2 separate regions of the Homo sapiens genome follow, and region 2 is linked to region 1. Evidence: fine-mapped QTL for protein levels in blood plasma. A gene starts in region 1. The other region holds a variant in brackets. All regions are shown on one strand. Distances are between the middles of the regions. Region 1 holds the start of SERPINI1 (serpin family I member 1). Region 2 overlaps SERPINI1 (serpin family I member 1).

The links. PIP is the posterior inclusion probability: the model's chance that the variant is causal. The UK Biobank Pharma Proteomics Project read protein levels with antibody pairs (Olink). The fine-mapping took linkage between variants from a reference panel, not from the people measured, so its PIPs are less certain.
Region 2: its variant is fine-mapped to the plasma level of the SERPINI1 protein (UK Biobank, PIP above 0.99). The variant lies in the coding sequence of SERPINI1. If it changes the protein, the assay may bind it differently, which can mimic a change of level.

Annotation. Positions count from the first base shown.
Region 1 is chr3:167,732,776-167,738,160 of GRCh38, forward strand. It overlaps SERPINI1 (serpin family I member 1), which reads left to right and starts at 2,946. Exons shown (of 9, transcript NM_001122752.2): 1 at 2,946-3,048. It overlaps PDCD10 (programmed cell death 10), which reads right to left and starts at 2,117. Exons shown (of 9, transcript NM_007217.4): 1 at 1,887-2,117; 2 at 1,439-1,575. RefSeq lists a silencer at 1,749-1,878 and an enhancer at 1,929-2,368.
Region 2 is chr3:167,792,738-167,798,122 of GRCh38, forward strand. SERPINI1 (serpin family I member 1) reads left to right here. Exons shown (of 9, transcript NM_001122752.2): 4 at 1-47; 5 at 1,883-2,087. Among named protein-coding and RNA genes, the nearest start is that of SERPINI1, 60 kb to the left of the region's middle. The variant G/A (reference allele first, on the strand shown) is at 2,044.

The DNA of each region.
Region 1 (5,385 bases):
CAAAAGGCAAATACCTACATTGTCATCTAGAAAACAGATTAATATTCTTGCTTTACCATCACTGACTCATGTTCAGTTTACGGTCTACTTACATCACTGCACCTTTCTTAATCCAGCACAAAGTCAGTTATCACCACATAATTTTCCATTTGTTTAACTGGGTCTTCCTTGTCTGTGTACTACATTACTTATGGTACATTATTCCTGATTTTACTTCATTCTATAGTATCATACTTTTTCTATTTTAAAAATCGTATTAATTTCCAGACCATCTTAATTTCAACCATCAGGGAAGATAATACCTCTGTTCCGAAAAAATGTTTTTCCATTAAAAAGTGAAGCACATTGTTGATAATATAGTAACTGCAGAGTACATTCAAAATTCAGCATAGTCTGATGATCAACTTATATATAAAACAGTAAGCTATGATTTATTACATGTTAAGAGTAAGCCATGATTTATTACATGCTAACCTGTATGGATATAAAGTTATCACAAATAAATTCTGCCATCAATGAACATACTCTAACAATTCTATTAAAAACTTATCCAATAATAATAGTCATGAGCTATAACTGGTCATAATCATTATAGAGGATAAGACTTGCATAAAGGCACTACTTTCTGCAAGATATGAACTATACGTGTACTGTTTTTTCATTCTTCAATGTAAAGTAAGAATGAATTGAAAGTCACAGTTGATGCTAAGAAAAATAAAAATATGCAAGAGCCCAATTTTATTATTTGCAGACACACACACAAATACAGCCCAGAGTCAAGAAAATGGGGGAAAAGTAAAGTCTCAAAAAAGACGATGTTACCTCCAAGAAATGCAAAATACCTTCTTTTCTAGTAATGGGCACACTAAACTCTCCTAACGCTACATTATTTGAAAAAAGTGTAGTTTTGTGAAAGAATTCCAATCCCACTATTATCAGTTTTACAAAATGAGAGTAAAAACAGTCCTAAGGTAGAAAAAGAAAAGAATATTCTTCTAAGGATGGGATATATTGTTTAACTGTTGTTCTCCCATCCTATTACCTACCCGTAAAAATGAACTGTGAGAGTAGAGTCTATCATTTAATACACCCCTAAAAAAAGGGGAAAAATCTGTAAAAGTTGAAACTGGCCATTTTTATTTTTTCCAAAAGGATCTTTCCTTTATTGAGGAATTTCACTCCGGTTCAAGAAACAACTTTTTATCTCACAATGGCTTCTTAGATATACTATATAAAATACATTTACTTTGTAACTTCCTCCACCCTTTTCAAAAAGCACAACCAACGTCCCTACTCTAAAGCTGGACTCGAACCGAACTAGATTCAGAAAGTCTGTCCCTACGTGTGTGACCTTGGGCACGTCATATAATCCCTCGGTTTCCTCATCAGCATCCCAAAATGAAAGCGCTCTGAAAGCAGTAAAGGAGTAAAAACATACCTTAGGTATGACACCTAAGAGGGTCAAGTCTTTCTGTTTAAGGCAAAATTATCTCCTTAGAGGGCCACATCATTAAACTGGAACTGAATCCGTAGACCCCAACATTTGTCTCTTCCTTCTTCCAGTGCTCCTCTTCCCTCAAAGGGCATAACCCGAGTCACCCCCAAGAGCCGACTCCCAAGCACCCTTTCCTTCCTCCTCCCTTTTCTCTTACTTACAAAGCAGGGGGAAAACAGCAGCCTCACCTCTCGGTCCGAAGCCACACCTTCAAAGGACCCCACCCCAGGCACATCCGCCCTGTCCCCTCTCCCGGGGCACCAGGGGCCAACCTCGCCCTTCCCCTCCCGCCCCCACCTAGAGGAGACTTCCTGGAGGCGTTCGGGCCCAAGCCGGCAGGCGGCATTTACAAACCCGCTTTACGCCACTCGCGTAGGGTAACCTCGCTTACGCCCGTAGGGCCCCGCTCTCAGCCCCGTCCGCTCCGCCTGCCAGAACCAAGCCCAAGTGCCTCAGCCATGGCCCCTGCGTGACCCTAGACCTCTTCTGCTCGGTGCAGAGCTACGGGGACTGGGACAGAACAGCTACACCTTACCAGCAACTGAGGCACTGACTTCACTTCCCACCTTGCAGCCCTCTTCAACTCCCGGATCAATTCACTCCGGCGACGCCGGAAGGACCCAAGAGGAACCAGGCGTTGTCCGGAATCCTGCCCAGCCGGAGTCGTGCAGAGGCTTATGGGGACTCGTAGTCCCGCTCGCCGGCGTTGTCCGCAATTCCTGCAATCGGAAGACTACACTTCCCGGCAGGCCATGCGGGGGATCCTGAGGCGATGGGTGGTGACACTTCTAGCCAATAGTAGGAGAATTCCCTGCCTTTGCGGGAGGAGGTGAGATGAAGAGAGATGGTGCACGGAAAGGAGAGGAAGGGCGGGGCAAGCCCTCACCTGCGCCAATCAGGGTGCGGAGTAGGCCCCGCAGGCGCCTCACCCATTGAGGGGGCGGGCTGACAGAGCAGAGGAAGGAAGGGGGTGAGGGGCCTGTGGTGGGGATCCTGGGGCTGTCGGGCTGAGTATGCCGTGTGGGTGGAGAGGAAGCCTCGGGGAAATCGCCCAGGTGAAGGGAGGGCTTGGTGTGGGGACTTGCACTGGGCAGAGGGGCAGCTTCCCTGAGAGCAGCTAAGCCCCAGGCACACCGGGCATCCGGACACACAGGTCGGGGAAGGATAGGCTGAGCCGGGGCTCCCAGCAGAGACGCCTGGGTGGGGCAGGAGGCCGCTCCAGGTGTGAGCCACAGAGGAGGGGAGAGGGACCCCCACGGGAGTGGAAGTGGCAGAGCAGCTGCAGAAGTGCAGGGAGCGGAAAGGTACCAGGGCAGCTGCTTTCCGCTGCCTCCGGTCCGGGCAGCTGCAGAAACAGCAGGGGGAGGAGCAACAGCTGCCAAATTCGCCAACTAGAGGAGGGAGAGGCGGAGCTTGGGTCCCTGTAGAAGCCAGAGGCGCAGTCTGGACTGTAGTTTCCCGGGAGAGACGAAAGCAGGAACGAGAGCGGAGCGGAGCACAGTCCGCCGAGCACAAGCTCCAGCATCCCGTCAGGGGTTGCAGGTGTGTGGGAGGTAAGCGTGGGTCCTTCTTCGGGGCGTCTGCACTGCCCTGGAGAAAACGTCTTCCAATAGGAATTACATCAAGACACAGCTAAAAGAGTCCGCGTTGGGTTAGGAAACCGGTGCAAAACCTCTCGGGTGAAAGATTTACATTTTTCGACTTTAAGGGCAAAAAAGCAAAAGGAAGCTTGACTCTGGGTATAAAGGGCGTGGTTAGTGTTTTTGGTTTGAGTTGCACCAGTAAAACTGTTCTGGGAGATCTGAAGATTGAGAAAAATCCTGCTAATTGAGGACGAGGTGGATGTTATCTGGTGGATGTTATAGGTGCGTAGCCTATAAAAAGCAAAAATTTTGCTATTGATATAGAATAACTTCTGAACTATTTCACTAGGAAAATAACTTTGCATTCTTCTTCAGTGTCTACCCTTTACGTTGGTTTATCAGATTGTCCTGCTACCGACCTGTTATCCAGGGTGGTTATTTTGCAGTTTCCTAGAATTGCAAGAAATCCGTATTAAAGAAGCAAGTGCAGGCAGGAATAGTCAGGATAGGATGGGCTCTGACTTAATCTATCAAAAGTATAACTTTTGCCAGCAATAATGTAAAAATGAATTTTAATGAATGGATAGTTAGCTTTCTTCCCAGTGGCTCTGGAATATTGGAACAAAGACCTGGATTCAGCCTACAATGGAAACATATGGTGTACCTCACTGCTGCTCGTTAGTTTCTCATTTGTGTCCGATAATATGTGTACATTTTAAAAACGAGTACATGGAAAGCTGTGTGGGAATCTTTTCTCTGGGTAGAGAGTATGTGCTGAAGGACTACCCTTAATATGTGTTATGATAGTGGGTTCAGTTTAAAACACATGTAGTGTCATAAAATAATAGTTTATTCTCGGTATTAAACTATATGTGCATTCAAAGCAACGTTAATTGTAATACCTATGGATGGAAATAAGTTGTAATGCTGGGTAAAGATGAAAGTCTCACCTACCTTTGTGTAATTATGACAAAATTACAGCCTTTTATTTTTAGAGAAGTAGTAAGAAGCTATTTTCCTAGTTCATTTTCATTTTGTTACAGAGGTTCCCAGATTACATGGCTTTTAATCATAGTAGCATATTGCAGCAAATTTTGCTCTGAAATGCTTTCATTGTGACAGTTGCATATTTCAGAGTCTGTCTCAATACTTTATGTTTTTTTTTAATAACCAGGGTCAATAAAATGGAGTAATTGTCTTGTTTTCTCCTATTTCTATGCTTTCCTGAGTTCTCGGGATTTTAAATTTTATTTTTGTAATGCATCCCAAATTTCTTTTTGAAAAGAAATGGCTCAAATGAATTCTCTTCCCAGATTAAAGTTCAGTCCTACTGAGTGCTACTACCGATAAGCCTAAGTGACTTTTCAGTGTGTATACTCTTCCCTCCCACACTCTCACATACCATAGAAATATATAGACAGATAGATCATAGAAAAACAGCTGCTTTTTAATTACCCCTAAGCAAATCAGCTAAGTATCAAAAACAGCAAAGAGCTTAGAAGAAAGAAAAAGCAACAGTAGCTGCTAAACTTAACCACTATAAGGATCAGGTTTTATCTTTGCTACAGCACTGGAGAATCTATTAATTCACATAGCTGATATGGCCCTGTGAAAATGATTTTGGGGGTAAAAAAAAAAGTGGGTATTAGGGTGACACATGGAAAAGACTGTGTTTGCCCTTGTTATTTGTGATTAAGTGGATTGTCTTGAATCAGTCTTAGATTCTTTCTCAGACCCTACTACTAATTCATTTTGTAAAACTGAATAATTGCTGTCGCTGGGTTATTTCCCCTATGTAATAATTATAATACTACCAATGAAATTCTTTCCGAGCCTTTATTAAAAGATCTGTTTGAAAGAGTTTTATTGGGAAACAGTTAATAAGCAAGCAAATGGATAGAAGATAAATATCTAAACAGTTGAAATTAAGATATACTTTGAATCTCAGCTCTTTATAGGTCTTCTGCTCTGAGACACGGTAAAGGATAGAATCTGATTAGGAATGAATGAGTTTGTGGTATTAAAGTACTGATTTTTTTCACCTGTTTCCAAGATTTGGATCCTTTTTACTGTGTCAGTAAAAGAGATTGGGTTTCAATATCATTTGAAAAAAGACCATGTTTTTATATGAGAGAATATCATTGGAAATATATGGCATTTATTTTTTACCTTGCACTCTTGATTCATGTTAGTTAATATTCACATTCAATCTCAGGTAATCTGAAGATTTTTCTTGATTGGTGTTGAAAACGTTCGTTATATGGCAGTTTATAATTCTGTGTAAAATGCTACCCATGTTATAAGCAT
Region 2 (5,385 bases), 60 kb after region 1:
TGAAGTCCAAATTCCAATGATGTATCAGCAAGGAGAATTTTATTATGGTAAGACATTTTTTGCTTTTATTTCTCTCTTCTTGCAGAATATCAACAGATTTCTAAGAAAAACATGAAGCATTCATATTCAAACTCCTTGTCAATCTAATTTGGGCTACAATTCAATTTTTTGGCTCCATTTTAAAAACCCTCTAATTAGTTTCTGAGTAAATATTATATTCATTGATGGTTTCCAGAGTATTTTCAAATTTATAAGTCAACCACACCTGCAGAGTAGCTTTATTCATCTGAAAATACCTGACATTGTGTGAGAATGTTCTGATTTACTCCAAAAACTCATTGGGTTTAGGATGGGTTTTAGTGAACCATATGTTCCACGAAGCACTTGATTTAGGCTCTGCACCACTTTTTAAATTACAAACATTCTTCTTATACAAAGACTTTTAAAAAAATTTGATTTTAGACATGTGTATGTATGGCCAAACATAATTGTTTGTTTATGCTTTAATTTATTGAGAGCCTATAATTTTTAATATAATTCAATATCTTTGGCATTATTTTCAAAGGTGTTTTATTGGACTCTTCAGAAGTTTAGGGTATTAGTCCTTCTTATCCACTATATTGACTTGTAATAATTTGTTAAGTCATAATCAGAAAGGTAATTTTTAGCCAGGTATATGTTAGTACTAGTAGTTTTATTCTATTAAAAGCACAGTACAGGCCAGCTGCTGTGGCTCATGCCTGTAATCCCAGTACTTTGAGAGACAGAGGTAGGAGGATTCCTTGAAGCCAGGAGTTCGGACTAGCTTGGGCAACACAGCAAGACCCTTTCTCTACAAATATATATATATATATATATATTTTTAATTAGCTAGGCATAATGGTACATACCTATAGTCCTAGCTACTTGGGAGGCTGAAGGAGGAAGATCACTTGAGCCCAAGAGTTTGAGGCTGCAGTGAGCTATGATCACACCACCGCACTCCAGCTTAGGTGGCAGAGCAAGACCCTGTCTCTAAAATTATATACATACAGGTTTTATATGTAGATAAAACTATATATACTGTGTGTATATATATATAGTTCATTTTGGCCATATGTATGTGTGTGTGTGTGTGTGTGTGTGTGTGTGTGTTAATTTGGCTAAGTTCATAGAGCACAAAGCCAATTGCCTCATTTACCTAATTACCTAATTTGGAGATATCAATATTCACAAATATAATAGCTAAATATTATACAATGCTTAGATTTCATTTTGACTCTGCAAACTTTGCTTTAAAACTTGTAGTTTTTGTGATAATAAAGTGCCAGGTATTAAATGGTCAAATTTTCCCTTCTTAAAAATCAGGTGAATATTGATCAATGTGCTTTGCAGTCAACTTGGAGCCAAGGCTTTATTTTTCTAACCAGGGCTTTTCATTGTTTCTAATGCTACACTTCAGATATATTGAATTATCTCATTTAAAAATAAAAATCAAGTCTTGAATACATGTTATTATAAATGTGAAATAATTCTGTGGATTCTAAAATAAAATAAATTATACAGGGCTGTGAACTTATTTGAATTTTAGGGCCTATTTTCAAATAAACCTGCTTTTTATCAGATGCTTGAATTTCTTTATATTCTATATACTATTTGGGAAGAAACATATATAACAAATTTAAACCTTTTTATTTATTTTTTTTTAGATTTTATTTCAATACTTTTGGGGAACAAGTGTTTTTGGTTACATGAAAAACTTCTTTAGTGGTGATTTGTGAGATTTTGTTGCACAAGTACCTGAGCAGTGTACACTATACCAAATATGTAGTCTTTCATCTCTCGCCCCCAGCTTTTTTTAAGCTTTGATAGGCATCTTTTATGGCCTTTATTTTCTTTTTAGGGGAATTTAGTGATGGCTCCAATGAAGCTGGTGGTATCTACCAAGTCCTAGAAATACCATATGAAGGAGATGAAATAAGCATGATGCTGGTGCTGTCCAGACAGGAAGTTCCTCTTGCTACTCTGGAGCCATTAGTCAAAGCACAGCTGGTTGAAGAATGG[G/A]CAAACTCTGTGAAGAAGCAAAAAGTAGAAGTATACCTGCCCAGGTATGAGGTTCCTGTGTCACCCGTCCCACAGCATGGACGATGGGCTATCAATGAAAATCTGACCCAGAAAAACTCTTCGAACTGCTTTCGAATTATAATTCTTGTGCCACTCTCTTCTTATTCTTGTTCTTCTCCTTCTCTTTCTCCTTCTCCTTCTTCTTTGATTTTCTTCTTTTTAGTATTCTTTCATAGTCATTTCTTTCATACTCATGTGGTCCTTCCCGTAGACACATGCTCACTTATTGGTTCATTCGGTGCTATTCATCGAGACCTAGTTTCAGATATAATTCAGTGTTCTTGTCTTTGTTTTAGAAAATTTATCTATCTGTTTTGTCTGAATATCATTTGCATTGACAGTCTTCTGTATTTTATTAACACTTAAGATTGATTATGACTGGAGAGGAAACAATCTCTGACATTGCTAGAAGAACTGCAAGCAAGTCACTGTGCTAGGTGCTGAGATGCAACCATAAATTAGCAGGAAGATGCAACTCTGCTCAAAATTCTCCCTGTGGCTAAAAGAATAAGATGCACACAATGCCTTTGATGTCCTGAATGCCATCCCCTTCTCAACCCCATTTCTGGCCACTCACCACATCAAGCATGTTGTAGCATGTTCTGTCCATGTACTTGTGATTATGCCACGTACATCATGCTCTTTTCATGTCTCTGAATCTCCACTTATGTTCTTGCATTGGCCTAAACTGCCCTCCTCATATTTCTTTCCCAAGATAGTGTTGCTTAGCCTTCAGGGTACACCTCTAGAACCAGTTCTTCTCTGAAGCCTCCCATGGAACTACCTGGAGCAAGTTACCCTCATTTTTGCTTCACTTATACACCTTTCTGTTATTACTTGTTACCATCCCATAATAACATTATCTTTTTGTAGGGCTAGTTTTCTTTCTGTAAGTTCTAGGGTAGAGCCAGTTTTCCTTCCTGTAGAAAGAACACAGTAAGTGTTTACAAAATGAAACTGAACTGAAAATGTTTATTCTATCCTTGAATACCTTAAAACCTAGTAGGAAAACTAGGCCAGTAAACACGTAGAACATGTTTATTAGCATACTATGTAAATTTTAGTCTAGAAAACAAGACATATCAATAAAAACAGATTAAATATATACGTATGTATGTACGTGAAAGTACAGTTAAAACACATTCCATATTAAGAAAATTGTTCAAGTATGATTAATTACTGTGAGCATTAAGGTGATAAATGAGTTATTAGTATTAAAGATGAATTATTAATAACTGATTAACCCATTCATATTTATTCTAATTTTAGGAATTATCATTTAAGGATTACATTTTATGTAAATATCAATGTTTCTAAAAACTTAGCTGATAGTTTGTTATGTAAGTGAAGGAGATCTATTTGGAACTATGGAGTTTTTGCCTGGAAAATTGTTTTATAATATATTCATAATATGGAATATTATGTTATGTCATAATTTATTATATAGCATGTCATGTTATATATTCATAATATATAACTATAAATATATAGCCATATATTTTCTATTTTTTATATTTTATTTTATTTTAAGGTCTGGTATATATGTGCAGAATGTGCAGGTTTGTTACATAGGTAAACGTGTGCCATGGTAGTTTGCTGCACCTATCAACTCATCACCTAGGTATTAAGCCTTGCATGCGTTAGCTATTTATCCTGATACTCTCCCTCCCCGCAACCCCCTGACAGGCCCCAATGTGTGTTGTTCCCCTCCCTGTGTCCATGTGTTCTAATTGTTCAGCTCCCACTTATAAGTGAGAACATGCACTGTTTGGTTTTCTGTTCCTGTGTCAGTTTGCTGAAGATAATAGCTCCCAGCTCCATCCATGTCCCTGCAAAGGGCATGATCTCATTCCTTTTTATGGCTGCATAGTATTCCATGGTGTATATGTACAACATTTTTTTTTTATCTGGTCTGTCCTTGATGGGCATGGCATTTTGGGTTGATTCCATGTCTTTGCTATTGTGAATAGTGCTGCAATGAACATATGTGTGCATGTATCTTTATAATAGAATGATTTGTAATCCTTTGGGTATATACCCGGTAATGGGATTGCTGGGTCAAATGGTATTTCTGGTTCTAGATCTTTGAGGAGTCACTGTCTTCCACAATGGTTGAACTAATTTACATTTCCACCAACAGTGTAAAAAAGTTCCTTTTTCTCCACAGCCTTGCCAGCATGTGTTGTTTCTTGACTTTTTAATAATTGCCATTCTGACTGGCATGAGATGGTATCTCACTGTGGTTTTGATTTGAATTTCTCTAATGTTCAGTGATGTTGAGCTGTTTTTCATGTTTGTTGGCTGCATACATGTCTTCTTTTGAGTCATGTTGTTCATGCCATTTGCCTACTTTTTAATGTGATTGTTTACTCCTTGTAAATTTTCTTATAGATTCTGGATATTAGACCTTTGTCAGATGGATAGATTGGAAGAATTTCCTCCCTTTCTGTAGGTTTTCTGTTCACTCTGATGATAGTTTCATTGCTGCGCAGAAGCTCTTTAATTTAATTAAATCCCATTTGTTAAGTTTTGCTTTTGTTGCAATCGCTTTTGATGTTTTTCTCATGTAATCTTTGCCTGTGTCTGTGTCCTGAATGGTATTGCCTAGGTTTTCTTCTAGGGTTTTTATAGTTTTTGGTTTTACATTTAAGTCTTTAATCCATCTTGAGTTAACTTTTGTATAAGGTGTAAGGAAGGGATCCAGTTTCAATTTTCTGCATATGGCTATATATAGCCACATATTTTCTTGTCTATATACAAAAGTCAAGGCAATCATAACCCAAATCCTTTTGGCTAAGATATTTAGCATGCATAACTTTCTGTGACAATACATATATGTAGAAATATTCCATTATAAGTCTATTCTTAAGGAGAGGTAGTTAATGAATACCTACCAAGCGTTTTTTTTTTATGTATGATAATTGACATTTATATACTAAATATATAAACAATGTACCTTAATTCCAAAGAACAATTTACTTTTGAACATGAATGATTAAATTTAAATTACTATGTAAATCAGGCCTAAAGTTATAAAACATTTAGTCTATGTTGGCCCTCATCTAATGACCTTTCACAATTAATTTTGTATTTTTTCTTGCATTTTATGAAGAATTCTTTTTGATAAAATGAGAAATTCAGTACAGTGTTAATGCTTCTCTTATTAAATCCATGAATTAAGTGCAGTGCTTCCAAATGCTCCAATTCTATGAGGATGCAAATTTATTTAGGAGTATATTAACAGAATTCTAAATGAATGCTTACTAAATATTATACATTCTA